Homo sapiens: one gene and its partners. The protein of the gene in region 1 interacts with the protein of each later gene in a pairwise test. Each region holds a gene or a part of one and is shown on either strand. Other genes may lie near its edges. The genes, in order: FNDC3B, ABHD11, USP54 and MVP.

Region 1 (7,023 bases):
GTTTTTACAGCATTGATTTAAGCTGTATTAGCGTTTCCTGTTGTGTCCAGCAGTTTACAACATGTATAATTACAAGTACAAATGTACAGAACTCTCTAGCAGACTATTTTTTCCTACCACTTATGTCTAAAGTATAATAAATTGTGCCAATTTGGGGTCCTGTATTTTGATTTAGCATGACCTTTGGTTTCCAATTAAAGAGATTTTTCTTCCCTCTTTTTCTTCCATTTACCTAGCATTAGAATATGAAGAAATATATCTAATGTTCCTATAATTTTGGGATTATTTTATCAATGTAATTAAATAAACTTCAGTGGACCCGCTTTGGAGAGTATGGATAACATCATTCAGAAACTTTTATTTTTATATCTCTTTTTTGGTGGGCATGGATTCTTTTGTAAGGGAGATACTGAGGCCGGCCACCTATGTGATATTTTGCTCAACTTGTGTGAAATCTGGTGCACTTTGGTCAACTGGAAGCACAAAGTGTTCTAAGATGAAAAAAATTCTTCATTCCCAGATGTTCCTGCATCGGAAAGTGGCTGTGAGGTCTCAGAGTACAGCGTGGAGATGACGGAGCCCGAAGACGTAGCCTCGGAAGTGTACCATGGCCCAGAGCTGGAGTGCACCGTCGGCAACCTGCTTCCTGGAACCGTGTATCGCTTCCGGGTGAGGGCTCTGAATGATGGAGGGGTGAGTATAAGCCCATACACCATAACCAGAATCAGAATGCATAATCAGAACCCAAAGTGCTAGCACTTCTGTCTCTAGCCTCCTGAAATTTTTGACAGTCTTGATGCAACCTTGACAACCATTAATGCAGTGTCTGTAAATCTTAATTCTGAGTTGATATTGTTGTGATTTCATATAGACCCAGCATTAGAAGTTTTCTGTTTCTTTTGTCCTCATATCATTCTATGAAGACAGCACTCAAGGTTAATAAGGATATCACCCTGTAGATATTTTCGACAGTTTTTGGAAAATTTCCTATTCTATTGACTTTATCAGTTCAGGGAAATTAGGATTAGATAATAGTTCTAATAAAAGTTTTATACTGTCTTGTCTAAATGAACCAGCAACATCTTAGGTCAGTTTTTACAACTAGAGAAGGGTAGTGGCCAGGGACACCAGCTTGTTTTTGTTTTGTTTCACGTGAAAACTACAGGACTCTCTCCTTCTATTGCTCCATTTGGAGTTGTCAAGTTGAGCTATCAAAAATTGAGAATATATATGTCTATGTTATATCCATAAAGGTTGTTGTCCTTTTTTTCTTTGAAATTGCCAAATGATGTGGATTTAGGGGGAGATGAATAATGAGCAGTGGGAGTCCCAGTAACTGTGAGGCTTTTGGGTGGGCTCAGAGATTGATGAAGCATAAAAGGGCAGAAGCGTGTGGGTAAAGCCAGCTAAATGCCCCGTCCAAAGTGCCAGTGGTTTGTGTAGATGGGCTCCATGCAAATAAATAGAATTAATTAATTGATGATTTTTTAAAAAAATAAGACAGCCCAACTTGCAGTGACTTTTTGTTTTAAGTGAAAGCAAGTTTATTAAGAAAGTAAAGGAATAAAAGAAGGGCTATTCCTTAGGCAGAGTGCCCAAAACTGGATTTCTCCTAATTCTCCAATAGAAAAGAATTTCAGACACAACAATGATACTTAAGTGAAAACAAAAAAGTCTGAACATTAACGCCTATGTACCTGAACTTATAATCATGTAAGCGAAAAGAAGATGGATAGTGATGAGCACACTGTTGTGTCTACCCCATTCTCTCATCAACTTTTCAGTTACTATCTGCCACAACAAAGATAAATGTGCAACTGGGCTGGTGTGAGCTGTACTTTTCTCAGCCCTTTCACTGATTTATCCTATAAAGAAACTATCTTCAGCTTGGGTTTATTCCTGTTGTATTAGAAATTAACCATATATATCGCTGTAGTCACCTTCTGAGGTCCATTTCAGAGAGCTTCCCCAACTCCCCAGCATCTTTGCATGTTATGTTGAGAGGTGGTTTTTTGTTTCCCCCCTCCCCGCCGTCTTTTTTCTCTCATTTTGACAAGGACAGTCATATATTTTGTTAGCCTGGCAAGTTTTTACTCTGCTCCAAACCTTTGAAGTATCAAATATGCCACCATTAAAATGGGTGGTTCAGGTGGCTGTGACTCTCTCAAAGTGTGGTAAGTCTCTAGCAATTCCTGGCTCTGAGCAGTGTGGTCACTGATGGTAACATCAGGATTGCCGTGGATACCCTTGAATAGGTGAGGTGATGGGAACACACTGAGAAAACATTACAGAAGCATTTATTTTCAAAATGGAAAATACCGGTAACTAGAAGAAATACCTAGAATTTGATCACCAACAATTCCAAGTATATTTTTATTCATTAAAAATTAAACTGCAGTGGGCATCTGACTTAGTTTTCTTGGATGTCCTCTGAGAAATATGAAAGCAGATTGCCCTGTTTTGTCAAAAATCAGCATATTTTTATTTCATGTCCCAAGAAAGGGAAAATATTTTGTCAACCAACTAATTATTTTACAATTAAAAAAATGACAGACATCTACTACTCAGGGACTGTATATAGGAGAAAAACTTACACACATTGAATTGAAAGTGAAAATCATTGGGTAATATTTGTTAATTAGTTGTGTTGATGATGATGTTAGCCTAGCTTTTATTTGGTTATAAGCTTTTGTATGCACACACATTCACAAACACATACACGCATATATACATACGTGTGTGTGCGTGTGTTTTCTTTCAGTATGGTCCCTATTCTGATGTCTCAGAAATTACCACTGCTGCAGGGCCTCCTGGACAATGCAAAGCACCTTGTATTTCTTGTACACCTGATGGATGTGTCTTAGTGGGTTGGGAGGTAAGTCAGGCATATTCTGCATCAACTTCTGTTTCTTCTACTTTACTCCCAAATACAAATACCAATTATAAGGAAGCTGCAAATCCAAAATGCACATATAGATGATTTTTTTTTTTTTTTTGCTCTGTGTACTATAGTAATCACCCTTGGCACTTGCCACTTGCTTATATTATTTAGGGTTGTGGAAGTTTTACTGTAGTCAAAACTGAGAGGAAATGGTTTCTCATGCCTTTCTTTTTGTAAAAAATTTTATTTTATTTTACTTATTTTATTTTTTTGTGTGACAGAGTTTCAATCTTGTCACCCAGGCTGGAGGGCAGTGGCACAATCTCGGCTCACTGCAACCTCTGCCTCCCTGGTTCAAGTGATTCTCCTGCCTCAGCCTCCTGAGTAGCTGGGATTACAGGTGCCCACCACCATGCCTGGCTAGTTTTTGTACTTTTAGTAGAGATAGGGTTTCACTGTGTTGGCCAGGCTGGTCTCGAACTCCTTATCTTAGGCAATCCACCCACCTCAGCCTCCCAAAGTGCTGGGATTACAGGCATGAGCCGCCGCACCTGGCCCTATTTTATTTTTAAATTTCTAAATCTCAAAAAAAATTTTGTGGGTACATAGTAGGTATATATATTTGTGATCGTGCCTTTCTTTTATATGTATTTGAAATATTCTGGGGCATGTTGCTCTCTTTCCCATTTTAGTTAATTGAATACAAGCACAGTAGGATTCTCTTCTCAGTGGCATTATTAACTACTTCCATTTCTGCCTTTCCAGAGTCCTGATAGTTCTGGTGCTGACATCTCAGAGTACAGGTTGGAATGGGGAGAAGATGAAGAATCCTTAGAACTCATTTATCATGGGACAGACACCCGTTTTGAAATAAGAGACCTGTTGCCTGCTGCACAGTATTGCTGTAGACTACAGGTAGGTTGACATTATTCAGATGTTACTCACAAGGACTGCTGTCCCATGAAAGGCACTTTGGGAAACCCACTCAAAGGCTTGTGGTGGAGGCTGTCAGGAGGGATGATATGGAAAAAAAGAGTCCATTTAAATAAAAATATATTTGGTTGTTTTGGTGTTTTGCAGTTAATTTCCACTTCTCTAGGAAATTCTGAAACTTAAGAACAAAATAAGATTCTTCTCCATTCTGCTTCTCACCACCCTTGTATCTTGTCTGTTCATCAGTTTGCTGAATAAATGACCCAAGTCCAAGGGAAAGATGACACAGCTCCTTAGGGAAGGAGCCTTCTGTCTCATTCCCCTGAGATGTACATTTCAGTGGGAAAGACTCTTAGAACTGGTAAAAGACAGAAAATTATTTTACGAGCTGTTAAATGGAGCCAAAAATAATCTGGACTAGTCTGCATTAGATTACAGGACCCCACCTCCCACCTCCCAGTGACGGTTATCAAGGCTGGTTATCTATAAGCTTCCACTTGGGAGTCCAGATAGAATAACATCAAGAAAAATTGGTTCATAGCCTAACCCCTCAGAGTGACAATAACCATGGGTTTACTTTTATTTTACTCTCTTGGCTATATTATTATTTTTTCTGTGTAAAGCCTTAGTCTCTTGAGAAAATAGAGTTCTTTGTCCTCCTCTTTCCATTTGTTCAGTAACATTTCTTGAGCATTATAGTACTTTGTACCAGGATCAAAGGAAGATCAGGAAGAGAGATACAAAGATTAATCAGATGTGGTTGTTGACCTTGAAGAGCTCTGTCTTCATACACATTTAGATTTGAATAGATAAAGAAGCAAAGATGCCAAAGTCAAGTTCCCACCTGATTTAAGTCATGGATCAAATTCGTTATTATAAGTACACCCAATGTCTCTGGTCTCTTTGGAGAAAATATTCGCTTCATAACTTAATTTTTCAGATCAACTGAAGCATTTCTGTTAAATTCAGAAGTCTGCTGTATTTGAAACATTTCTGATTAAACTCTTTTGTTATACACCTTTCTTGCTTCTCGAATGAAGCACCTGGGACATAATTAACCTTTTGACAATGAGTCAGTGTCACAGCAAATTGTCTGATATTTATAATAGTGATGCTGAGTCACTGGGGAAAGGTTAAATTATGTGCCACACTCTTGTTTTTCTACCAAGGCAGGATATAAATAAAGAGCTGTCTGCCACCCCAGTAAAGAGCTTCACTCCATTATGGTTTTTGAGTTTTGGTGTTTCTTTAAAATGTTATTATATCTCCTTCTCTTTCAGAGTCTATGTTGTCTTAGCATTGACTTCCCAAAGCTGCATTATAAAAGATACATTAATAAGAATAGTACCTGCATAATCTTGCCTCGTTGTATTAACAGGAGTAGAAATATATTTTCAAAGGTCTGTGCTTATTTATAATAAAATGAGTCAGATCTTATGAAGGGAGTACTACTTTTAAGATTACCATTGCCACACTAAAGGACTATTGCCAGGAAGGGGGTCTGTTCAAACTATACCAATTTATTGTTATTTGTGGACCAAATATGAATTATTTTCATTCAACATGATTACAAAGTCAAGTTAAACCCCAATATTTTTTGAATATATGGCACTTAAGAATTTAAATATTGGCCGGGCATGGGGGCTCACACTTGTAATCCCAGCACTGTAGGAGGCTGAGGCCGGCTGATCTCTTGAGCCAGGAGATAGAGACTAGCCTGGACAACATAACAAAACCCCTCCTCTACAAAAAAAAAAAATACAAAAATTAGCCAGGCATCTGTAGTCCCAGCTGCTCAGGAGCCTGAGGCAGGAGGATCACTTGAGCCAGGTCAAGGCTGTAGTGACCTGTGACTGCACCACTGTAGGCCAGCGTGGGCGACAGAGTGAGAGCCTGTCTCAAAAAAATAAAAATTTATTATAATACCTGTACTGTGTTTTATAGAAATGTGGTGGAACATTTCTTGTTTTGCTCAGGAATTTTTGAATTTTTGTATTTTCAGGACTGTTTTAATTAAGTACCAACGTAATTCCATTCATAGGGCATGTTGTATATTATAGGCATACTATTATTTACAAAAAGTTGATTTTGAATTAAATTTCATTTGAAAACTGTTAATAAAAAGTGGTGTAAATCAAGAAATGTTTTCCATAGAGCCAAGCTAGTTAAAAAGAAAGTAGGATCCTGCAGTAGAAAAAGAACATTGGAAGAATTGGTAAGATTCTGATTAGGTCTGTATGTTAATAGTATAGTATCAGTGATAATGTTTTTCTTTTCTTTTTTTTCTTTTTTTTGAGATGGAGTCACGCTCTGTCACCCAGGCTGGAGTGCAGTGGCGCGATCTTGGCTCACTGCAACCTCCGCTTCACAGGTTCAAGCGATTCTCCTGTCTCAGCCTCCCGAGTAGCCGGGATTACAGGCGCCTGCCACCACGCCTGACTAATTTTTGTATTTTTAGTAGAGATGGGGTTTCACCAGGTTGGCCAGGCTGGTCTCGAACTCCCGACCTCAGATGATCCACCCGCCTCAGCCTCGCAAAGTGCTGGGATTCCAGGTGTGAGCCACCGTGCCCGGCCACCAGTGATAATTTCCTGGTTTTGATCATTATTCTATAGTTCTGTAACATGTTTCTCTTCGGAAAAGCAGAGTAGGAGATAGACAGAAATTTCTCTGTACTATTTTTGCAACTTTTCTGTAAGTATAAAAGTAGTACACAATAAAAAGGTGTTTGAAAAAATAGAGAAAATACTATTTTGTTCATAATTTTCCCAGTGGGAAGGAAGAAAGTGTAGCTCCTACTGTTGGCCTGATACTCTGCCAGCATTTTACATATTAACCGATTTAATCTTTACTGTAATTCTATGAATTAGGCATTACTGTCCCCATTTTACAGCTGAGGAAACAAGCTCAGAGAAATTAACTAACCTAAGATCACACAGTTGTTAAATGATGGAATCAAGGTTTGAACTAAGCTTCAACTCTTAAAAGCCATGTTCTTGTCCTTCTGTGATATGGTGATACAAAGCCCTAGTTGATAGAAACATTGGGCTCCATGATATCCTATTTTTCTGCCCCTGTGATACATTTATATCAGTACCAAAATCTCGAAATACATACTTATAAAATAATTTGTCATGTTAAAATTTTTCCAGAAAGAGAGTTGAGGTATTGAGGTATTGTAATGAAACAGAAGTGGGTATGACAAAATG
Region 2 (7,739 bases), on another chromosome or scaffold:
GAGGCCCAGCTGCTGGAGGTCCTGGAGGAGAAACTGAGGCTGAGGCGGGAGCTGGAGGCCTGGGAGGTAGGGGAATGCCATCAGGGCCTGGGAGGTGTGGGGAAAGAGGGCACAGGCTCAGCCTTGAACCTGCTCTCCTGTCCACAGGAGGACGTGCAGCAGCTGGTGTGGCAGCAGGTCCAGAATCAGCTGCAGAGAGAGGCCAAGGGTACTCGGGGAGCCCACGTGGACCCTGGAGCTGCCAGCACCCCCCGATCCAGATTCTCCCTGGGTCGGGGACGTTGGTGGTGACACAGACCTCAGCCCAGGACTTTGGGAGTAGTGTCTTTATTCATTAAAGCCTGAGGTCTGACCACCCCTGTAAAACCTCGTGCCCACACAGTGCCTGTCTGAGTCCTTCTGTGCCCAAATGTGGAGCAGGCTGCAGAGACTTGAAGCCTGGGGTTTTGTGCCTCCTTTTTGTTTTGTTTTTTTTGAGACAGAGTCTTGCTCTGTTGCCTAGGCTGGAGTGTAGTGGTGTGATCTCGGCTCATTGCAACCTCTGCCTCCAGGGTTCAAGTGATTCTCCTGCCTCAGCCTCCAGAGTAGCTGGGATTACAGGTGTGCACCACCACGCCAGGCTAATTTTTGTATTTTTAGTAGAGACAGGGTTTCACCATGTTGGCCAGGCTGGTCTCCAACTCCTGGCCTCAAGTCATCCTCCCGCCTTAGCCTCCCAAAGTGCTGGAATTACAGGCATGAGCCACCACGCCCGGCCATCTTCTTGCCAGCAACTCTTAGACCAGGAAGCCTCGGATGGCAGCTATGAAGTCCTGTGGGCGGTCAGCGTGGATCCAGTGGCCAGCGTTCGGCACCGTCTGCATCTGGGCCCGAGGGAAGAGCCGCATAATCTCAGGGTGGTGGCTGGGACTGTGCATCGCAGCGACGGCCATCAAAAACGGGTGAAAGTGGGATGAGGAGGAGTGAAAGAGACACGTGGAAGCAGAACGGGGAGAAATGGAGAGAGCTGTGTGAGCCCATATGCCCGGTGGTATTTCTGGCCTCTCAGCCACCCCCCTTCCACACCCAAGGCCTCCCCTGGTAGGGTCCCCAGGCTGGGGCCTGGGCGAGTAAAGCATGCCCCTCCTACTACCCAGGCTAGCTTACTGCACGAACTGGGAGTTTCCACCAAGGAGAAAGAGTGTTGGCCCGAGGTAGGACTCCTGCCTCTGTGGGAAAGCCAAGATCTTGTCTAGGTGCTGGGTCAGGGCATCCAAGTTCACCCTCCACACGAAGCGCCCGTCTACCTCTACCAGGTTAGTGAGCAGGTGCTGCCGCACGGCCATGTCCTGTGGGGGTGCAGCAGTTGGGGGAGGTTCCTTGTGCGGTCTGGGGGTGCCACTCTTCCCTTGACAGGTCCTGGTCTACAATACCATCCGGGGCACCTTGGGTGTATCACCTGGATGACAGAACTGAGCTGTTCATCCGCCAGTTTTCGGGCACGGGAGCGGGGCAGCTCATCTGCGATGTTGATGGCCCTCATGGCTGCCACATAGGTTGCAAAGTGGGAGACACCTGTGCTTTCCACTGGGCTGATATCTACAGCAATGAGACGTTCCACCAGCTCTGGCTGTGGGAGAGAACCGAACTGGGACCAGTCTTAGGCAGACATAGGGAGTCTCAGGCATGGCTCCTGGAGCCTGAACTTGGTCATCCAACGATCATGTGAGTCCCAGGTTGCCTGCAGGGCCCTCAGGGTATATACTGAATGGGAGGAGGCCCCAGACATGGGCGGCTCACCCTCTGTAGTGCCAGCAGCATGGCTGTCTTTCCTCCCATGCTGTGGCCAACGACGACGCAGGGCACCAGGCCCAGCTGGGGCAGAAGGTCCTGCAGGTCCTGGCTCATGATCTCGTAGCTCATGTCTGGGCTGTGGGGGCTGTCACCGTGGTTACGAGCATCCACCGTCAGCACCTGGGGAGTGGGGTGAGACGGGGCTGCGTTGATATCCCCATTCTGGGGGTAGACAGCCAAAGGCTTGTAGGGACAGCAGGTCAAAGGTGTGGAGAGCCTGGGGATACACCCTGTGGAGGGGAAGGGCCCAGTTTCCAGACCTAGGAGGCCCAGATGAAGAACCTGGGGCCACTCTGCCAGAGAAGAGCAGGCCCCAGGGTTGTGACCACGTCTCTGAAGGGCTGGCCTGGCTGGGTGGCAATCTCGGAGAATGCCAGGAAGGAGACTCCAGGAATTTCCAACAGTAGGAGCACAGAAGAATGGGCTGCCATAAGAGGTGGTGAGCTCCCGGTCATCCCTAGTGAACAAGCAGGCCCCTTCATGGAAAGGGTGCAGGCGCCTAGGCATGGGCCAGCCCCGATGGAGATCTACAACATGAATTAATGAAGATGGCAACGTGAGGGAATAAATGGGGTTGCCGTTCAGGGTCCATACTCAGAGTGAGGGATCTGGAAGTGAGCGTGAGAAGCGGGACCCCCCCTGCCCCGCCTCCTCTCAGGCCCCGCCCACTCCCGCCCAGCCCCAAAGGAGCCCCGCCCACTCGAAAGCTCACCCTACGGCCTGTCTGCTGGGCCAAGATCTTGGCGATGGAGTTGAAGTTAGTTTTGCTGCCGAAGAGCCCGTGCAAAAAGACGACGGCCGGGAGGGCTGCCTCCCCGTCCAGAAGCCTGTAGGAAAGCGGAAGCGGCCTGGCAGGGGAAGGATCGAGGTCAGAGTCTGAGCCGGCGGAGACGGGGAAAGGGGTAGGGGGAAAGAGCTTTGGGGGAGAGGCCTGGGAGGTGACAGGCCCAAAGGGAGGAGATGGGGCCGTCGGGGCCCGGCAGGAAAAGGAGGACAGAGGATGGCCTCCCGCCCGGTGCCCTTGACTGACCTCGGCTCGGCGCCCCCTCGGCCGCCGCTGCTGCTGCTGGGTGCGACAGGCACCCTCGCGAAGCTAGGGCCGTGGGGGCCGAGTCCCTCACGCGGGAGCCTCCAGGCTCGGGTCCAGCGGAGCATGCTTGCAAGCTGTTGGCCGGCTCGCATCTCACAAGGTACGTCCTCCCCGCGCTCCTTCTCCCGCCCTAGCTCGCAGCCCCGCCCATTTCCGTCTTCAGCCGCCCCGCCCAGTTCCGACTTGAGCCCCGCCCTCTCCCCGCCCCCATCGCGGGATTCTCCGCCCTTGGTCCCGTTTCCTTACGTATCCCCGAGAACAGTCCGGCCCCGCCTCCATCCCCGCCCCTTACGCCATTACGTAATCCCCGCAGGCTTTGCGCGGGTCGCCCTGAGCGCCGCACCTGGCCTCGCCCTAGGCTGGGCAACCCGCGGTGCTTGCCCCTCCCCTCGCGAAGCGCCGCGGTGCGTAGAATCTGGGAATTCGGTCTGCGCCGCTCTGTGCGTGCTCGGTTCTGGTTGCAGCTTAGGGCTCGGTTCCCGCCCCGCACCTGCCATCGCTCACTGACCTGGGTGGCTGCCATCGTTTCTGTGCCGCCGGCGGGGGCGAGCGGCGCCAGGGTGGCTCTGGGCGGCGGAGTGCCAGTGTGGTGGCGCCGTGCTCCACTGCCGGGGGCCCGGGCAGGTTGGGCGGAGCACGGACACCCACCCATCCTGGAGTCGTCGATCTAGAAGGAGCTCGGGGGCACTCTAGAGCTCTTCCCCAAGCCCCTTCGTCCCTTTTACGTTTGGGGAAGGCTCCCCCAGTCTGATCCCACCTGCTTTTCTGCCCATACTCCCCATTCTCATACTCCCCTATCAGGCACCCTGCCTTTCAAGGTCTTCTCCACACCCCACCTCCTGCTGGGGTGCTGTCTGTCTTCCAGATAGCCAGTTGCCCGAGTCCTATACTTTTTTTTGGTGGGGGTCTTACCCTCGCCCAGGCCGGAGTGCAGTGACGCGACCGTAGCTCACTGCAGCCTCGACCTCCTGGGCTCAAGCGATCCTCCCGCCTTTGCCTCCCGAGAATCTGGGACTACAGGCGCAGACTAATTTTAACATTTTTTTTTTTTTTTTTTTTTTTACTGAATCATGGTTACAATTTTTTTTTTTAGGCCGGGTGCGGTGGCTCACGCCTGTAATCCCGGCACTTTGGGAGGCTGAGGTGGGCAGATCACCTGAGGCCAGGAGTTGGAGACCACCCTGGCCAATATGGTGGAACCCCGTCTTTACTAAAAATACAAAAATTAGCTGGGCGTGGTGGCGGGTGCCTGTAATCCCAGCTACTCGGGAGGCTAAGGCAGGAGAGTCGCTTGAACTCAGGAGGCGGAGGTTGCAATGGGCGGAAATCATGCCACTGCACACCAGCCTACCGGACGGAGACAGACTCCGTTTAAAAAAAAAAAAAATTGCCGTGGGTGGTGGCACGGCCCTGTAATCCCAGCTACTGGGGAGGCTGAGGCAGGAGAATCGTGTGAACTTGGGAGATGGAGGTTGCAGTGAGCCGAGATCTTGCCACTGCATTCCAGCCTCAGTGACAGAGCGAGACTCCATCTCAAAAAAAAAATTTTTTTTTTAAAAAATAGAAGCGGGGGCTTGCTATGTTGCCCAGGCTGGTCTCGAACTCCTGGGCTCAAAGTGCTGAGATTACAGGCATGAGCCACCACACCTGGCCCAACAAAATTTTTTTTAGAGAAGGGGTCTTGCTACCTTGCCCAAGCTGGTCTCCAGCTCCTGGCCTCAAGCGACCTTCCTGTCTCAGGTATATGGCTTTTATTTTATTTTTTCTGAGACAGGGTTTCACTGCGTCACCCAGGCTGGACTGCAGTGGCACAATCACGGCTCACTGCAACCTCTTCCCCCTGGGCCCAGGCAATCTTCCTGCCTCACCCTCCCGAGTAGCTGGGACCACAGATGTGCACCACCATGTCTGGCTAATTTTTTTCTGTTTTGTAGAGATAGAGTCTTACTATGTTCTAGGCATAGCAAGGGGACAGTTTCAGGCTGGTCTGGAACTCCCAGACTCAACTGATCCTCCTGCCTCAGCCCCCTGAGTAGCTGGAATTACAGGTGTGCTCCACCATGCCTGGCCTCAGCTATAGGCCTTTTAAGGCATTGTATAACTGCTGCCTCCTCCTCAAGCCTTCGCAGACTTTCTGAGTTAAAACTAATCTCTTTCATGGAATGTTCTGGAAGCATTTCTCAGAGGCTACTGTGTAGTATTATAGAGGCAGCCCTCCCTGTGTGTCCACAGCGGGAGCTATGTCTTGTTCATCTGGTGCAAAGTGGTAATAGTCATCAAGAGCTTCAGGGCACTGGTAAATGCTTATGTGGAAGTCCTGCGGGTGGCTGGGTTAGTGGCCCTCCCGGATATGACACCTGGGCCAGCTAGTCTTACACTGACCCCTCCCCCACCTCCTTAGGGCGGTCCAGGACCTACAGGATGAGTCCTAACTTTTTTTTTAAAAAAATAATTAATTAATTAATTATTACTATTATATTTTGAGACGGAGTTTTGCTCTTGTTGCCCAGGCTGGAGTGCAATGGTGCGATCTTGGCTCACCGCAACCTCTACCTACTGGGTTCAAGCGACTCTCCTGCCTCAGCCTCCCGAGTAGCTGGGATTACAGGCATGCGCCACTACGCCGGCTAATTTTGTATTTTTAGTAGAGACGGGGTTTCTCCACGTTGGTCAGGCTGGTTCAAACTCCCGACCTCAGGTGATCTGCCCGCCTCGGCCTCCCAAAATGCTGGGATTACAGGTGTGAGCCACTGCGCCTGGCCATTAATTTTTTTTTTTTTTTGAGACAGGGTCTGGCTCTGTCATGGAGGCTGGAACCTGGCTCACTGCAACCTCTGCCTCCCGGGTTCAAGCAGTTCTCATGCCTCAGTCTCCCGAGTAGCTGGGACTACAGGCGCGCATCACCACACCTGGCTGATTTTTTTCTGTTTTTGGCAGAGACAGGATTTCACCATGCTGGCCAAGCTGAGGATGTGTCCTAACTCTGTAAAGCTCCATCTCCTGCTTAATGGGACCCTGAGGTGTTTGGTTCCAATCTGAGGAGGGCTGAGGTCACCGAGGACTCTAAGCACACCAGGTGGTGTGATCATGTTTCCCGCATAGTAATTAGGGGAGTGATGAGGACATCTGAGCCCTGTATGGGGGCTGGTCCCAGGCCTGGGAGGGGTCCTTGGAGAGTGTTTTTCTAGAGTTGGTGGGTGTTTTTCTAGAGTTGGTGGGTGTTTTTCTAGAGTTGGTGGGTGAAGGGCGTGGGGGTTGAAGATTCAGAACAATAGTATTTCAAAGGTGCTTTTTTTTGTTTGTTTGTTTTGAGAGAGTCTCTCTGTTGCCTATGCTGGAGTATAGTGGGACAATCTCAGCTCACTGCAACCTCTACCTCCCGGGTTCAAGCGATTCTCTTTTGCAGACTCCCAAGTAGCTGGGATTACATGTATGCGCCACCATGCCCGGCTAATTTTTGTATTTTTAGTAGAGACTGAGTTTCACCGTGTTGGGCAGGCTGATCTCAAACTCCTGACCTCAGGTGATCCTCCTGCCTCGACCTCCCAAAGTGCTGGGATTACAGGCATGAGCCACTGTGCCTGGCCTCAAAGGTGCTTTCAAATTGATCCCTGCCATACACCCCACCCTCCACCAGGTAATCTCAGCCTGGCCCAAGATCCCCACATCTAGGGGCAGAAGCAGCCTTGAGATATTTACTCAGAGTCCTGGGCCCCAGCCCTGATCAGGTGGCTGATGAAGGCAAGCAGAAAAACCAGTTGGTTTGATGTTTCCACTTGAACATTCCAGAGAAAGTGGTGGGGGCAGGGGAGGGGTCGTTGCTACCTGGGAATGGATCTGGGGGTGGTGTCATCCTGGGGGCTGCCCAGCCCTCTCAGCTTGTTAGGAACAGGCCAGGAAGCGTGCTGTTGGTTGGCGAAGGCCTCCTTCTAGGGGAGGCCAGAGGGGAGGACTTCCGGAGCCCCTGACATGTGGAGGTGAAGGTGGGAGGTGAAATGGACTATCGCTCTTTGGAGGTCGAGTGTACACTGCCCCATCCGTGTTCCCAGGCTTCCTGTGAAGTGGGAGGGTGCCGTCCTTATTCTGCTGATGAGGAAAGAGAGGCTTGGACGGCGAAGTAACCCAGCTCCAGGTCACTCAGCCAGTGCACAGCCCGGATTGTTTCCTTCACTGACTCCTAACGCAGTGCTCCGTGTATTTCATCACCACCCTTCAGGCCGTGGGGACCAAGGGCCGAAGGGGTGCGGCCTGAGGCGGCCGGGACACTGCGCCTAGGTGGCGCGGTGGCATTGAATGGGTTAAGGAGGGGAGGTGGCGGGTGTCCCTTAACTGCACCTGGCCCAGTATCGGTCACGTGGCCAGGGTTTCACCTGCCCCGCTGAGCAGGGACAATCAGGCTGCTTGTTTTGTGGCCGGTCGCCATGGTGACAGCAGCTTGCCAGGGGCGGTCATGGGGCAAATTCCTGCTGGCCAGCCGGGTGGGGCAGGAGTGTCAGCTGTGCTGGCACCAGTCGGGGCTTCCCGAAAGACCCCTGGAGCTTTCCCGTGGGGCTGTCCCTGGGGGGCCCCTATGTGACTCCGCTCGAAACCTCCTCCCATCTCAACCCCCACATCAGCCCAGCTTCTCTCCTCCCAGATTTTGAACCTGAGTTGATGTATTAAGCAGCCGGGATTTTCATATACGTTATTGTGTTTAATCCTCACACAGCAACCTTTCCCATGTGGGAATGGTAATCCCTGCAGGTCTGCTGCCGGCTGCGCCTCCCCTACTACTCACCCAACACTTTGAGAACACTGGCTCCTTCCTGCCTTGCTT
Region 3 (7,023 bases), on another chromosome or scaffold:
AAGCATTTTTTTTTTTTTAGCATTTTTTGAAAAACTAATTTGGTGGCCGGGCGTGGTGGCTCACACCTGTAATCCCAGCACTTTGGGAAGCTGAGGCAGGTGGATTGCTTGAGCTCAGAGTTTGAGACCAGCCTGGGCAACATGGTGAAACCCCGTCTCTACAAAATATACAAAAATTAGTCAGGTGTGGTGGCACATGCCTGTAATCCCAGCTACTTGGGAGGCTGAAGCACGAGAATCGCTTGAACCTGGGAGACGGAGGTTGCAGTGAGCTGAGGTTGTGCCACTGCACTCCAGCCTGGGCAACAGAGCGAGACTCTGTCTCAAAAAATAAATAAATTTTAAAAAGTAATGTAATTTGGTGCTTAATAAATGTTTTACAATAAGATAAAGAACTCTCAAATTATATTTTTTCTTTTTTTTTTTTGAGACAGTTTCACTCTTGTCACCCAGGCTGGAGTGCAGTGGCGTGATCTCGGCTCACTGCAACCTCCATCTCCTGGGTTCAAGCAATTCTCCTGCCTCAGCCTCCCGAGTAGCTGGGATTACAGGCACGTGCCACAATACCCGGCTAATTTTTTTTGTATTTTTAGTAGAGATGGGGTTTCACCACGTTGGTCAGGCTGGTCTCGAACTCCTGACCTCAGGTGATCCACCCGACTCAGCCTCCCAAAGTGCTGGGATTACAGGCGTGAGCCACCGCACCTGGCCAAATTATATTTTTTCATATGTGAATCCTAATTGGCATTTTCCTTCATCTACTTCCCAATTAATTCTATCTGATCACTTCTTTATTCTATGTCATATCACTCCTCTTTTTTTTGAGACAGGGTCTTGTTCTGTTGCTCAGGCTGGAGCGCAGTAGCATGACCACAGCTCGCCGCAGCCTCAACCTCCCAGTCTCAGTTGATCCTCCTGCTTCAGCCTCCCAAGTAGCTGGACTACTGACCCGCACCACCACACCCAGCTAATTTTCTCAGTCTTTGTAGAGATGGGGATCTTACTGTGTTGCCCAGCTGGTCTTGAACTCCTGGGCTCAAGTGATCCTCACACCTTGGCTTCTCAAAGTGCTGGTATTACAGGTGTGAGCCACTGCACCCAGCCTGTCATGTCACTTCTTAAGGACTCAGTTTTTAAACCAAGGACTCTAACAAAAATAAAGACTAGTTTGATTTTACTTTTTTTTTTTAAGAGATAGGGTCTCACTGTGTTGCCCAGGCTGGAGGAGAGTGGCTGTTCACAGGCATGTGCTCATAGCACACTACAGCCTGAAGCTCCTGGCCTCAAGTGATTTTCCTGCCTCAGTCTCCCAAGTAGCTGGGGTTACAGGCATGAGTCATCATGCTCCGCTTGATTTGATAAATATATTGAGAATAGATTGACTACTAGATAGATTTTTAAAAATTTGTTTCTTTACACTACTAGACAAAAAAATTAATGGTCAGTAAGTACTCTTTCATACTGTTTTCAGAAGTATAGTCTTCTTCAAAGCTAACTGGCCAGTATGTATCAATATTTTTTTTAAGTTTATAACATTCAAATTAGTCAGGTATGGTAGTGCATGCCTGTAGTCCCAACTACTCAAGGGGCTGAGGTGGGAGGATCTCTTGAGCCAAGAAGGTCAAGGCTACAGTGAGCTGTGATCATGTCACTGCACTCCAGCCAAGACAACAACATGAGACCCTGTCTCAAAAATGAAAAAAAAAAAGTTTATAACATTCAACTAGTTATTAGTCTTCTAAAAGGTTATTCTAAGGAGCTCATGAGAAACGTGACCACTTAAGTGCAAAGATATTCAACACAGTACTATGTTATTAAAAATTACAAGTAAGCCAGGAGCGGTGGCTCACCTTATAGTCACTTCTCACTTTATAGTCCCAGCACTTTGGGAGGCTGACGCAGGCGGATTACTTGAGGCCAGGAGTTCGAGACCAGCCTGGCCAACATGGTGAAACCCCTTCTCTACTAAAAATACAAAAAATTAGCCAGGCTTGGTGGCACACGCCTATGGTTCCAGCTACTCGGGAGGCTGAGGCAGAAGAATTGCTTGAACCCGGGAGGCGGAGGTTGCAGTGAGCCAAGGTTGTGCAACTGTACTCCAGCCTGGATGACAGAGCGAGACTGCCTCAAAAAAAAAAAAAAAATTGTAAGTAACCTAAATATTCAACAATAGTAGGATGGTTGAAGAAATAAATTACAGTACATTCATATGAAACACTTTATAACCATTAAAGGTAGTTTTTACAGCAAATGCTCACAGATATAACATGAGAAAGTCATGATACTAAACTGTATACATATAGTGTAAAGGATACTGCTTTTTGCAAAAACAAAACTATATAGTACATGTGTATAAAAATGAAAACCAAAGGTAAGCTTATGAAAACATTAAGAGTGAGATTATCAGTGATTTTTGATACTTTATGTATTTTCAAACTACCTGCAATGAAAAATGTTGCTATTTTGGGTAATACAAATTTTTTTTTGTTTTTGGTTTTGAGATAGAGTCTTGGTCTGTCGCCCAGGTTAGAATGCAGTGGCACAATCTCAGTTCACTGCAACCTCCACCTCCTGGGTTCAAGCAATTCTCCTGCCATCAGCCCCCCAAATAGCTGGGATTACAGGTGCCCGCCACCATGCCCAGCTAATTTTTTGTATTTATAATAGAGACAGGGTCTCACCATGTTGGCCAGGCTGGTCTTGAACTCCTGACCTTGGGTGATCCACCTGCCTCGGCCTCCCAAAATGCTGGGATCACAGGTGTGGGCCACCGTGCCCAGCTAATTTTTTTGTGTGTATTTTTAGTAGAGACGGGGTTTCATCATGTTAGCCAGGATGGTCTCAATCTCCTGACCTCATGATCCGCCCACCTCCGCCTCCCAAGTGCTGGGATTACAGGCATGAGCCACCATGCCTGGCCTTATTATTCTTAAAATAATTACTTGTGGCCTGGCACGGTGGCTCACGTGTATAATCCCTGCACTTTGGGAGGCCAAGGCGAGTGGATCACTTGAGGTTAGGGCTTCGAGATGAGCCTGGCCAACATGGTGAACCCCATCTCTACTAAAAATATAAAAATTAGCTGGGCGTGGTGGCACACACCTGTAATCCCAGCTACTCGGGAGGCTGAGGCAGGAGAAGTGGCCTGAACCCAGGAGGCAGAGGTTGCAGTGAGCTGAGATCACGTCACTGCACTCCAGCCTGGGCAACAGAGCGAGACTCTGTCTCAAAAAAAAAAAAAAATTATTTGTGTATTCTTGCTTCCTTAGATAGAAAGCTCACTGAGGCAGACTCCAGCTTTCCCTTATTCTTTAGATTCTTCCCATATCAACCAGTCCTATCAAAGACCACCTTAGTAAATGTTATTGTAAAATCTACATTAGGATACGGATCCTCAGAAATGTATCTTAATATCAAGTCTTAGGACAGGCACGGTGGCTCACACCTTTAATCCCAGCACTTTGGGAGGCTGAGGCGGGGGGATCACCTGAGGTCAGGAGTTCAAGACCAGCCTGGCCAACGTGGTGAAACCCTGTCTCTACTAAAAATACAAGAGTTAGCCAGGTGTGGTGGTGGACGCCTGTAATCTCAGCTACTTGGGAGGCTGAGGCAGGAGAATCACTTGAACCCGGGAGGCGGAGGTTGCAGTGAGCTGAGATCACGCCATTGCACTCCAGCCTGGGCAACAGGAGTGCAACTCTTCTCAGAAAAAAAAAAAAATGAATAAAAAATCAAATCTTATATTTATGTGGTATTCCCCTCAAAGGCTCTGGAGAACACAGTAAGTACTCAATAAACACTTACTCAACTGTAATTATATGTTGGTTGTCAGCATGCAAGGAACCTGCACCATTACAGAAACTGTCACAGCCAAGCTAAGGAAAAGTTCTCCAAGTTCAATTTCACAGAATCATACATGCCATTTTAGAGTTAGAACATATCTTTTTTTAAAAAAAAAGCCAGTTCTCTCATTTTACAGGTAAAACCTTGGCCCTGGGATATTAAGTGACTTGTCCAAATTTATACTGAGAGTTAATGTTGGAATCAGGAAAATAGTTCAGGCTTTGGAGTTAAGTGCATCAATGTAAGTTACAAACATTCTTCATGTCTTCAATTTCCAGAACTGACTATGATGTGCACTTCAGGTGCAGGCTCTACTCTTCACTCTGTATTATCTCAGTCAGTGGCTACCCTGTAGGCATATAGTACATTAAAAATTCCTTGAACACCAAACTTGACTTTTCCTAAAGGGATCAGGAAGGTCTTGATATTGCTGGTTCAGTATGATCTGGAAATGTCCACACTGAGCATATGGACATCCTACTGCAAAGCAGACCTGGAGGCTGAATCTTGGGATTCTAAGCCATAGAAGAATATATTTTCCTCTCAGCCTCCCTCCATTTCATGCTGTCATGCTGAATCACTCTCAAACACCTATGAACCATTCTTTTTTTTTTTTTTTTTTTGAAACGGAGTCTCATTCTGTTACCCAGGTTGGAGTGCAGTGGTGCGATCTCAGCTCACTGTAACCTCTGCCTCCCGAATTCAAGTGATTTCCCTGCCTCAGCCTCCCGAGTAGCTGGGACTACAGGCAAGTACCACCACGCCCGGCTAATTTTCTGTATTTTTAGTAGAGAAGGGGTTTCACTATGTTGGCCAGGATGGTCTCGATCTCCTGACCTTGTGATCTGCCCGCCTCGACCTCCCAAAGTGCTGGGATTACAGGAGTGAGCCACCGTGCCCGGCCCTGAACCATTCTTTAGCACAGCATACTGGAGAAGCCATGGGCAAATACTTAGTAATCTCTTACTTTAGAAGGAGGGAAGTTGCCTATGAGTGGTAATTCTGCCCCTTCCTCCACTCTAGCCAGAAAAATGTCTAGGTCTTGTCCTGAAGGCTTTCTGAGTAAAGTCAAAAGTTCTATTACCTCCTACTAAGCTGGGGATAGTATCTGTATAGAACACTCCCTTCTGATCTTTCCCTGCTTTCAGCTTTTATATGATCCTCCCCCCTCCCCCCAACCCCTGGTTGCATTCTTACCTGTTTGGCTAAGTGGGTGCCAGGCGGTATCCTGCTGCCCCCATCCAGAACAGCCAGCTTGAGAAGCCTGAAGACTGGCCTGATACAGAGACTCCAATTCTGAGGTCTCCTGCTCTGTGTCTTGGTTCCAATGTGGATGCAAAAGGATGTGATTTCTCTCTGGATAGGTTACACACGTATGGGAATCATGAGGGGAGGACTTCATTCCTGGCCTAGGTGCCCCATGCTTAAGCTGAGAATCACAGAACCTTGTGATATTCACCCAGGAATCCAAAGGCAAGGAAGTCCCCAAGTCAGTACTGCTGCCCAGATCCTTAGACCTAACATCTCTCACTTGGGACAGCTTCTCTTGGTATATGTCTGGCTCTGCCAACCTGGGCTGTCCTCCGCTAGAAGTTTCACCATTAGGCAGCCCAGAGTTTAAGGCAAGAGAAGAATGTTCAGTGGACTCTTCCCAGGAAAGTGGTCTATCCCCACCCTCCAGAGAGGATTGTTGCTTTGCCCATGGCCAGTGGCCTTTCTCTTGACCCTGTGAGAAAGGAGGCTTAGAATCAGAAGGGGAAGAGTTCTTCCTTAGACTACCTGACAAACTTCTATCCTTGAAACCTGTACTATCCCTCATGGAGACACCCTGCATCCTCTGGAACTGCTCAGCCAGAGAACGGACAAGCCCCTTTGTGCTGGGAAACTCTGGCCTATAGGTCTCCTCACTGCCTCTGTCCACTTTTAAAGTCAATGAAGTTTTGAGGCTTTGGCCTTGGAGGCATTGGTTAGTTTTCTGCACAGGATCAGGACAGTGAAGCACAAATGAAGAAGCAACAGGCATTATGGGGTGGCAGGTTCTATACAGGGGAAGGCTGGGCTGAGCTGATGAATTTGAAGGACTACAGCCTAGGCTGTGTTCATCACCCCTCTCAGAGGTGGCTATTCCAGGCATCACCGGGGAGGGGTTAGCAGGATCCTTCTTTTCTTGGAACAGCTGTTCTTGAGCAATGCCTCTTCCTTCTTGTGGAGGGAGCTTGCTGCAACTGCTGTTGTCACACCTAGAGCCTTGCAGCTTACCCTCTGGGGCATCCAATGGCTCCCAACTATGATGAGAATTCTTCTCAGTCCACCCTGGTGCTTTAGGTAAACCTTGCCTGTGGAATGCAGAGGGTTCAATGTTGTCTACTTCAACCGAAGTCAGAAGCTTCAAGGCAGATCTACTGGGGGAGCTGTGCTGTGGGGCAGATGACTCTGGAGATAGTGATGAGTGTGACTCATGGCAGGAAGCAGGTGAATGGAAGAAAGAACTGGCCCCAAACTCTGTATCCATGCCGGATTCCAGTTGGGCCTCTTGGCTTAACAATACTTGGAGCGGGATAGGCTGTTCACTGAAACAAATGGAGAGAGCTAGTCATAAGCTGCCTTGACTGACAGGAACACTTACAGAAAGAACTCAACATTCCATTCCCATTTCTAGCTATTCACACAGGGAATGGTAAAAATAAACAGAAAGACAAGCACAAGTAGAGTCAGTAGTTCAGAGGATCACAAAAGAAAAGGCACATGGTCAGCTCACACTCAGGTAAATAGGTAACGTTAATCCTCTTTATTAAACACCCTCACCAAAGTTGCACAGTAACATTAAGTGGAGCCCTTGCCAATATTCTTCACTACCTGTGAAGTCGCATTCCAATCACATTCTACTTGCAAATTAGGAAACAAAATCAGCTAGTCTCACATGCAGATGACATGGAAGGTAAGCAAAGCCTGAAAATCACTCATACCAAACAGCAAAAATCCAGGATGCTATACAGGGAGGCAAGTCCTACCTGGGGTCCTGAGAGGCAGCCCGGCCAAAGGAACTATGAGGCCACATTTACAAAATACAGGGTGATTTGGGCTCATGGGAATACACAGAAATTAACCATTTCAAATATGTTTTTATAATCTGGATTTTGTTCTATTAGTCACTGAGATGTTTCCCCAAAGCAATATGAC
Region 4 (7,023 bases), on another chromosome or scaffold:
ACGAAGCTTTTATATTGTATTTTTACCTTACCTTTTCTATGGCTAGATACACAAGTACTTGCCATTGTGTTCAGCTGCCTGCAGTATTCAGGACAGTCACATGCTGCACAGGTTGGCAGCCTAGGGGCAGGCTACGCCATCTAGACTAGGTGCCATCTAGGTTTGCATAAGTGCACTCTTTTGCACAAAGACAAAATCATCTAAGGACTATTTCTCAGAATGTATCCCCATCATTAAGTGGCGCATGACTGTATCAGAGTTTCAGAGTCTCAGGCAGCGGGTAGCCAGGAGGCCTTCCCAGAAGGGGAATTAACTTCAGGTCTGAGGGGTAAGTCAGAGGCTGCCAGGAATCAAATGGGCCAGTGTCTCAGGTGTGTAAGAACTAAGCATGCAAAGGCACAGAAGGTGTTCCTAGAACGTGCGTCTGGAGGAGAGAAGGCAGAGGGCCTCATGCCACTAGAGGACATACATCTCCCAGGGCAGTCCTCTGTGGGGGTGTAGGGACCTCACCTTGACCACGCGCTTCTGCCCCAGCTGATTCTTGCCATCCGGTCCGACAGGGTCGAGAATCACGCAGTAGTTGTGGGGGCCCAGGGTGGTGATGGGCACAACCCCCAGCACCTCCTCGTGGACATCTGGCACGTGGGCCTCTGTGTCCTGCACTGTTACCAGCCACTCCTCCCCAGTGCGGCGGGACACTCCCCTGAAGTCCCGGAAGTTCCGCCGAGCCCGGAGGTGCAGGGCTGTCTGCAGAGCAACATGTTGGGTATTTGAGTGACCTGCCTCCAACTTCAGGGGATCTGCGAGCCCCATTGGCCACCAAATGCTCCCAATGCTCCCAGATCTCAGAGACAATTTCTACCAATCCAGGGATTGTTTTTTTTTTTTTTTAAATCGGAGTCTCTCTCTTGTTGCCCAGGCTAGAGTGCAAAGGTGCGATCTCAGCTCACTGCAACTTCCGCCTCCTAGGTTCAAGCGATTCTCCTGCCTCAGCCTCCTGAGTACAGCTGGGATTACAGGTGGGTGACACCATGCCCAGCTAATTTTTGTATTTTTAGTAGAGATGGGGTTTCGCCATGTTGGCCAGGTTTGTCTTGAACTCCTGACCTCAGGTGATCCTCCCACCTCAGCCTCCCAAAATGCTAGGATTACAGGCATGAGCCACTGCACCCGACCGGCTTTGTTTTTTTTTTTTTTTTTTGAGACAGGGTTTCGCTCTGTTGCCCAGGCTGGAGCACAGTGGCATGATCATGGCTCACTGTAACCTCTGCCTCTGGGGTTCAAGCGATTCTCCTGCCTCAGCGCCTCTGGAGTAACTGGAATTACAGGCATGCTCCACTACACCCAGCTAATTTTTAAATTTTTTGTAGCGATGAGTTCTCACTGTGTTGCCCAGGCTGGTCTCAGACTCCTGGCCTCAAGTGATCCTCCTGCCTCAGCCTTCCAAATTGCTGAGATTACAGATGTGAGTCATTGCGCCCAGCCCCAGAAAGACTATTTAACCCTTCAGATGATCCAGAATACTCAGGCAATCTGATCTCTGAATTTTTTTAAGTGACCCTAAAATTATTGCTTCTCTTTTACTCTCATGCCATTCTACCACCATTCTCTGCCACTCGGAGGGTTCCCTAGCCCCAGGTCCCTTAAACCACAGCCCCCAGAGCACCAACCTTTTCCGTAAGGATGACGGCGTCCACCAAATCCAGAACCTCCTCAAACACCGCTGGGAGGTACGCCCCTACTGTGGTGACCAGCCATTCTTCCCCTGGGCCAAGAGTGGAGGGTAAGGGACAAGGGCCCCCCAGCCTGCTCCCCACCTACCCCTCCCCCACAGCTTAGACACAGGGGATTGACAGATTTCATAGGCAAAAAGATAGCACTGACCCCAGGCTCAAGTTCCTGACTGCGGTCCTCTTATTCATTCTTTTGAGGCCAAACCCCCACCCCAGTTGAATTTTAAAAGTTTTTTTTTTTTTTTTTTTTTTTTTGAGACGGAGTCTCCCTCTGTTGCCCAGGCTGTGATCTCAGCTCACTGCAACCTCAGCCTCCTGGATTCAAGTGATTCTCATGCCTCAGCCTCCTGAGTAGCTGGGATTACAGGCACGTGCCACCACGCCCGGCTAATATTTGTATTTTTTGTAGAGATGGTGTTTCACCATGTTGCCCAAGCTAGTCTGGAACTCCTGGCCTCAAGTGATCCGCCCACCTTGGCCTCCTAAGATGCCCAAGTTGCTGCTATGCCAACAGCCTGTTCTGCCTTCTCTAAGCTCCAAAGACCAACTTTTGTCCTTCTGCTAAAACAGGCAGCAGAACTGCCTCTGTTAGAGTTGTGGATGTCCTTTGGTTTACTGGAGAAGCCAGAGTGCCTGGATGCAGGTCCCAGCCTCGCCCTGCCTGGCCACACCCCAGGGCAAGCAACCTGCATTCTGCATCCCAGTTTTGATATATAGAAAGTGGGAATGGCCGGGTGCGGTGGTTCACGCCTGTAATCCCAGCACTTTGGGAGGCCGAACCTGGTGGATCACGAGGTCAGGAGATCAAGACCACCCTGGCTAACATGGTGAAACCCTGTCTCTACTAAAAAAAAAAAAAAAAAAAATACAAAAAAAAAAAAAATTAGCTGGGCATGGTGGTGGGCGCCTGTAGTCCCAGCTACTCAGGAGGCTGAGGCAGGAGAATGGTGTGAACCCAGGAGGCGGAGCTTGCAGTGAGCCGAGATCGCGCCACTGCACTCCAACCTGGGCAACAGCAAGAAAGCAAGACTCCGTCTCAAAAAAAAAAAAAAAGTGGGAATGGTAGCACCTCGGGGTAGTACCTCTGTGGCCCAGGATGGAGTGCAGTGGTGCAGTCACAGCTCACTGCAGCCTCCACATCCTGGGCTCAAGAAATTCTCCCCCTTCAGCCTTCTGAGTAGCTGGGACCACAGGTGTGTGTCCAAGGCCAGGCTAATTTTTAAATTCTCTGTAGAGATGGGGTCTCACTGTGTTGCTCAGGCTGGTCTTAAGCTCCTGGGCTCAGACGATTCACCCACCTTGGCAAAGTGCTGGGATGACAGGTGTGAGCCACTGTACCTATTGGCCTACATTTGTCAATTGTATTTGAACATCTTCTTTGTTGATCCAGAATCAGGTAAGTCATGGCCACTGCCCACAGCTCATGGTGAAGGTGAGGGAAGGAAAAGCCACATCCGCATGGTCATGGTCACATTTTCCAGCCCAAGTGGAAACAGCATGAAGCGGGGGTGGGGAAGGAAGAGCAGTGGGTGGCCCTCAACAGCTTTCAAAAGATACCAGGAAAGCGCCTCTCTGGGGCTACAGGAGGCTTTCCTCAACCTTCCCCTGCTTCCCCTGCAGTGGGGACCCCTCCTGCCCACCCACCATCATCGCCCCTTGGTGACCCCACCTGTCACCCTCTCCTTGCCGTCCCGGTCCCAGCACTCCTTGCGGGCCCTGAGCCGCAGAGCCTGGTTCTGCCTGATGATGGTGGCCTGAATGATCTCCACGACCTCCACTTCCTTCCGGGGGATGTACGTGCCTGGGGAGGGAAGGTGATGGTCAGAAGGTATCAGGGCTATGACAGGAAGGCAGGGAGCCCTATGGAGACAGAACTTACCAGGTCCCTCGAAAAGCCACTCATCTCCTGCCACCACCTTGTCTCCATCTTTATCCTCAAAATCAAGCAGCGCCTTTAGATGGAGGGCAGTGTTGGGCAGAACCACCTGCAGGGGTGTGATGTCCTAGTGGGGAAGAAGGTGGAGACACAGAACCATCAGTGCTGTGACCCCAGGGCCAAGCCTGATGCTCTGGAGGCGGGTCCACAACATCCATCTCTGTATGTCCTGAAATAAGACTGGGGTGGAGGCCGGGCACAGTGGCTCACACCTGTCATCCCAGAACTTTGGGAGACTGAGGTAGGAGGATTGCTTGACCTCAGACATTCAAGAACCAGCCTGGGCAACATAGCAAGATCCCATCTCTAAAAAAAAAAAAAAAAAAAAAAAGTGTAGCCAGGCATGGTGGCGGCGCACACCTGTAGTCCCAGCTACTCGGGAGGCTGAGGTGGGAGGATCACTTGAGCCCAGGAGGTTAAGGCTTCAGTGAGCTATGACTGCACCACTGCACTTCAGCCTGGGCAGCAGAGCAAGACCCTGTCTCAGGAGTTCAGATGAAGGAGAAGTTAGAGAAGGCCCTTTGAACTGAAACTGGGGCTCAAAGGAAGAGCTGGCTTTTTTTTATTTTTGGAGATGGGGTCTTCCTATGTCATCCAGGCTGGACTGCAGTGGTACAACCATGGCTCACAACAGTCTCAATCTCCCAGGCTCATGTGATCCTTCTGTCTCAGCCTCCTGAGTGGCTGGGATTACAGGTGTGTCACCACCCCCAGCTAATTTTTTTTTTTTTTTTTGAGACAGAGTCTTGCTCTGTCACCCAGGCTGGAGCGCAGTGGCGCAATCTCAGCTCACTGCAATCTCCGCCTCCCAGGTTCAAGTAATTCTCATGCCTCAGCCTCCCAAGTAGCTGGGATTACAGGCGCATGCCACCACGCCTGGCTAATTGTTGTATGTTTAGTAGAGATGGGTTTTCGCCATGTTGGCCAGCCTGGTCTCAAACTCCTGACCTCAAGTGATCTGCCTACCTTGGCCTCCCAAAGTGCTGGGATTACAGGCGTGAGCCACTGTGCCCGGCTGAACATATTTAAAATGAAAGCTTAGGCAGGGCTTGGTGGCTCACACCTGCAATCCCAGCATTTTGGGAGAATGAGGTGGAAGGATCGTTTGAGCCCAGGAGGTTGAGGCTGCAGTGAGCTATGATCACCCCACTGCACTCTCGTCTAGGCAACAGGGGGAGATCCAGAAAAAAAAAAAAAAAAAAAGGCCAGGCGCGGTGGCTCACGCCTGTAATCCCAGCACTTTGGGAGGCCAAGGCAGGTGGATCATGACGTCAGGAGATCGAGACCACCCTGGCTAACACGGTGAAACCCCATCTCTACTAAAAACACAAAAAGTTAGCCGGGTGTGGTGGTGGGCGCCTGTAGTCCCAGCTACTCGGGAGGCTGAGGCAGGAGAATTGCGTGAACCTGGGAGGCAGAGCTTCCAGTTAGCCGAGATTATGCCACTGTACTCCAGCCTGGGCAACAGAGTGAGACTCCATCTCAAAAAAAAAAAAAAAAAAAAAAAGGTACAAGAATCCCTATATACTTTTCACTTGGATTCCTTAAGGGTTATTGTCTTAATCATTCTTCATTTTCTCTCTACACACACACTTCTTCCCCCAAACTGTCTGCACCTAAGTGGACATGAATGTCTCTAAAAGTTCCCCATGTTCTGCTATTATGCTTTCAGGATCAAGCAGCACTGGTTAGTAAAGTCAGTAAGAAAACCATTAAATGGGGCTGGACACGGTGGCTCATGCCTGTAATCCCAGCACTTTGGGAGGCCGAGGCGGGCGGATCATGAGGTCAGGAGATCAAGACCATCCTGGCTAACACGGTGAAACCCCGTCTCTATTAAAAACAAACAAACAAACAAACAAAAAACCCAAAACCATTAAATGGCCAGAAGGTAAAGGTGGAAGAACAGGTAAAGGAATGAAGGTGGGACACCCACCTGCTCAGGCCCAGGCCTGAGGCCAACGGGGACAAGAGCCTGGCTGTAGGTTCAGGCCTGTGATGGCTTCTCCTAGAACAGGCACAGCCTGGGGCCTGGGCTTGTCACTGCTGCTTTGGCACTGCCCACCAGTGTCTGGCACCGGGTGAATGAACTGCTTAACCTTGGCACATGTCATTTAATGCCAGACTGGCTGGGCACTTCTGGTAGGCTCTGGAGCCTGGGAAGGTGAGATGGGCCAACAGTTCTCAGAAAAGAGGCAGGTGTGTTTGGGGCATGTGTGGAGGATGGGGGTGGCTGGAGGTGAGTGGAGGTACAGTGAGTCAATTCCACCCTTGGTGAGAGCCAGCAAGTGTCTCTCCCCACCCCTCCCACTGCCCTGGTTTGTTTTCCCTTTAGAACTCGGTACAGGCCGGGAACAGTGGCTCATGCCTGTAATCCCAGCACTTTGGGAGGCCGAGGCAGGTGGATCACCTGGGGTCGGGAGTTTGAGATCAGACTGGCCAACATGGTGAAACCCTGTCTCTACTAAAAATACAAAAATTAGCCGGGCGTGGTGGCGGGTGCCTGTAATCCCAGCTACTGAGGAAGCTGAGGCAGGAAAATCACTTGAACCCAGGTGGAGCTTCCAGTGAGCCGAGATTATGCCACTGCACTCCAGCCTGGGCGACAAGAGTGAAACTCTGCCTCAAAAAAGAAAAGAAAAAAAGAAGAAGAAGGCAGCAGTATAGAGCCCAAGGCAGGTGGAGGACAGGTAGGGTGGGGCATAGGGAGTGAGGAAACCAGGTACCTTTTCCAGCACCTCCCCTGGGTACAGGGGGAAGGGGTCCTGGGCCAGCCGGATCTCGAGGTCAGCGTGGCGAAGCCGAACTTGCCCTGTGACATCAAACAGCACCAAGCCCTGGGCATCCCGAGACACAGGGTTGGCCACTGTGCAGTAGTGACGTGGGGGGACGGTCACCATGCGCATGGGGGCAAACAGTACCCTGCAGGAAGATGAGAAGAGGTGTGAGGACCTGGGACCAGGTCTCCACTACCAAAGAGGACACCAAATGAGAGAGAAACCTCTCTATCGCCCAAGCGAGGGCCACTCCTGCTTGGGAAGAGGGAGGAGGATAAGGACCATCATGCCAGCCAAACAGGCCCCCACATCCCCAAGGATCCCCCACAGCCCAGCCCCCACACCCACCTCTCATTGTCCTGCCGGATGTAGGTCTTTGGCCCGACCTCCACACGGGACACGTTGCTGTTCTGGTCCAGCACATGGATATAGTGGTATGGGGGGATGCGGATGATGAACTCTTCAGTTGCCATGGTGACTCCTAAGCCCAGGGCTCACAAGAAGATGACTGGTAGGTGGGGGAGACGACACAGGATGAACCTGGGGAGCCTGGGGTGGGGCAGGCATGAATCTGGTG

What was found.
Region 2: the proteins of FNDC3B (region 1) and ABHD11 interact in binary tests that used the Homo sapiens proteins (3 or more experiments, as listed by UniProt).
Region 3: the proteins of FNDC3B (region 1) and USP54 interact in binary tests that used the Homo sapiens proteins (3 or more experiments, as listed by UniProt).
Region 4: the proteins of FNDC3B (region 1) and MVP interact in binary tests that used the Homo sapiens proteins (3 or more experiments, as listed by UniProt).

Annotation. Positions count from the first base shown.
Region 1 is NC_000003.12:172,343,566-172,350,588, forward strand, and holds part of FNDC3B (fibronectin type III domain-containing protein 3B), read left to right. Parts: intron 1-520; coding exon 521-693; intron 694-2,761; coding exon 2,762-2,875; intron 2,876-3,646; coding exon 3,647-3,796; intron 3,797-7,023. UniProt on the Homo sapiens protein: May be a positive regulator of adipogenesis.
Region 2 is NC_000007.14:73,735,783-73,743,521, forward strand, and holds ABHD11 (sn-1-specific diacylglycerol lipase ABHD11), read right to left. Parts: upstream 3,021-7,739; 5' UTR 3,016-3,020; coding exon of another isoform or gene 2,989-3,015; coding exon 2,864-2,988; intron 2,682-2,863; coding exon 2,546-2,681; intron 2,361-2,545; coding exon of another isoform or gene 1,954-2,360; coding exon 1,780-1,953; intron 1,610-1,779; coding exon 1,439-1,609; exon of another isoform or gene 1,329-1,438; coding exon 1,147-1,328; intron 910-1,146; coding exon 777-909; 3' UTR 312-776; downstream 1-311. UniProt on the Homo sapiens protein: Catalyzes the hydrolysis of diacylglycerol in vitro and may function as a key regulator in lipid metabolism, namely by regulating the intracellular levels of diacylglycerol. 1,2-diacyl-sn-glycerols are the preferred substrate over 1,3-diacyl-sn-glycerols.
Region 3 is NC_000010.11:73,511,335-73,518,357, forward strand, and holds part of USP54 (ubiquitin carboxyl-terminal hydrolase 54), read right to left. Parts: intron 6,414-7,023; coding exon 5,041-6,413; intron 1-5,040.
Region 4 is NC_000016.10:29,830,446-29,837,468, reverse strand, and holds part of MVP (major vault protein), read right to left. Parts: intron 6,996-7,023; exon of another isoform or gene 6,955-6,995; 5' UTR 6,920-6,954; coding exon 6,795-6,919; intron 6,592-6,794; coding exon 6,396-6,591; intron 3,737-6,395; coding exon 3,613-3,736; intron 3,535-3,612; coding exon 3,403-3,534; intron 1,766-3,402; coding exon 1,671-1,765; intron 748-1,670; coding exon 511-747; intron 1-510. UniProt on the Homo sapiens protein: Required for normal vault structure. Vaults are multi-subunit structures that may act as scaffolds for proteins involved in signal transduction. Vaults may also play a role in nucleo-cytoplasmic transport.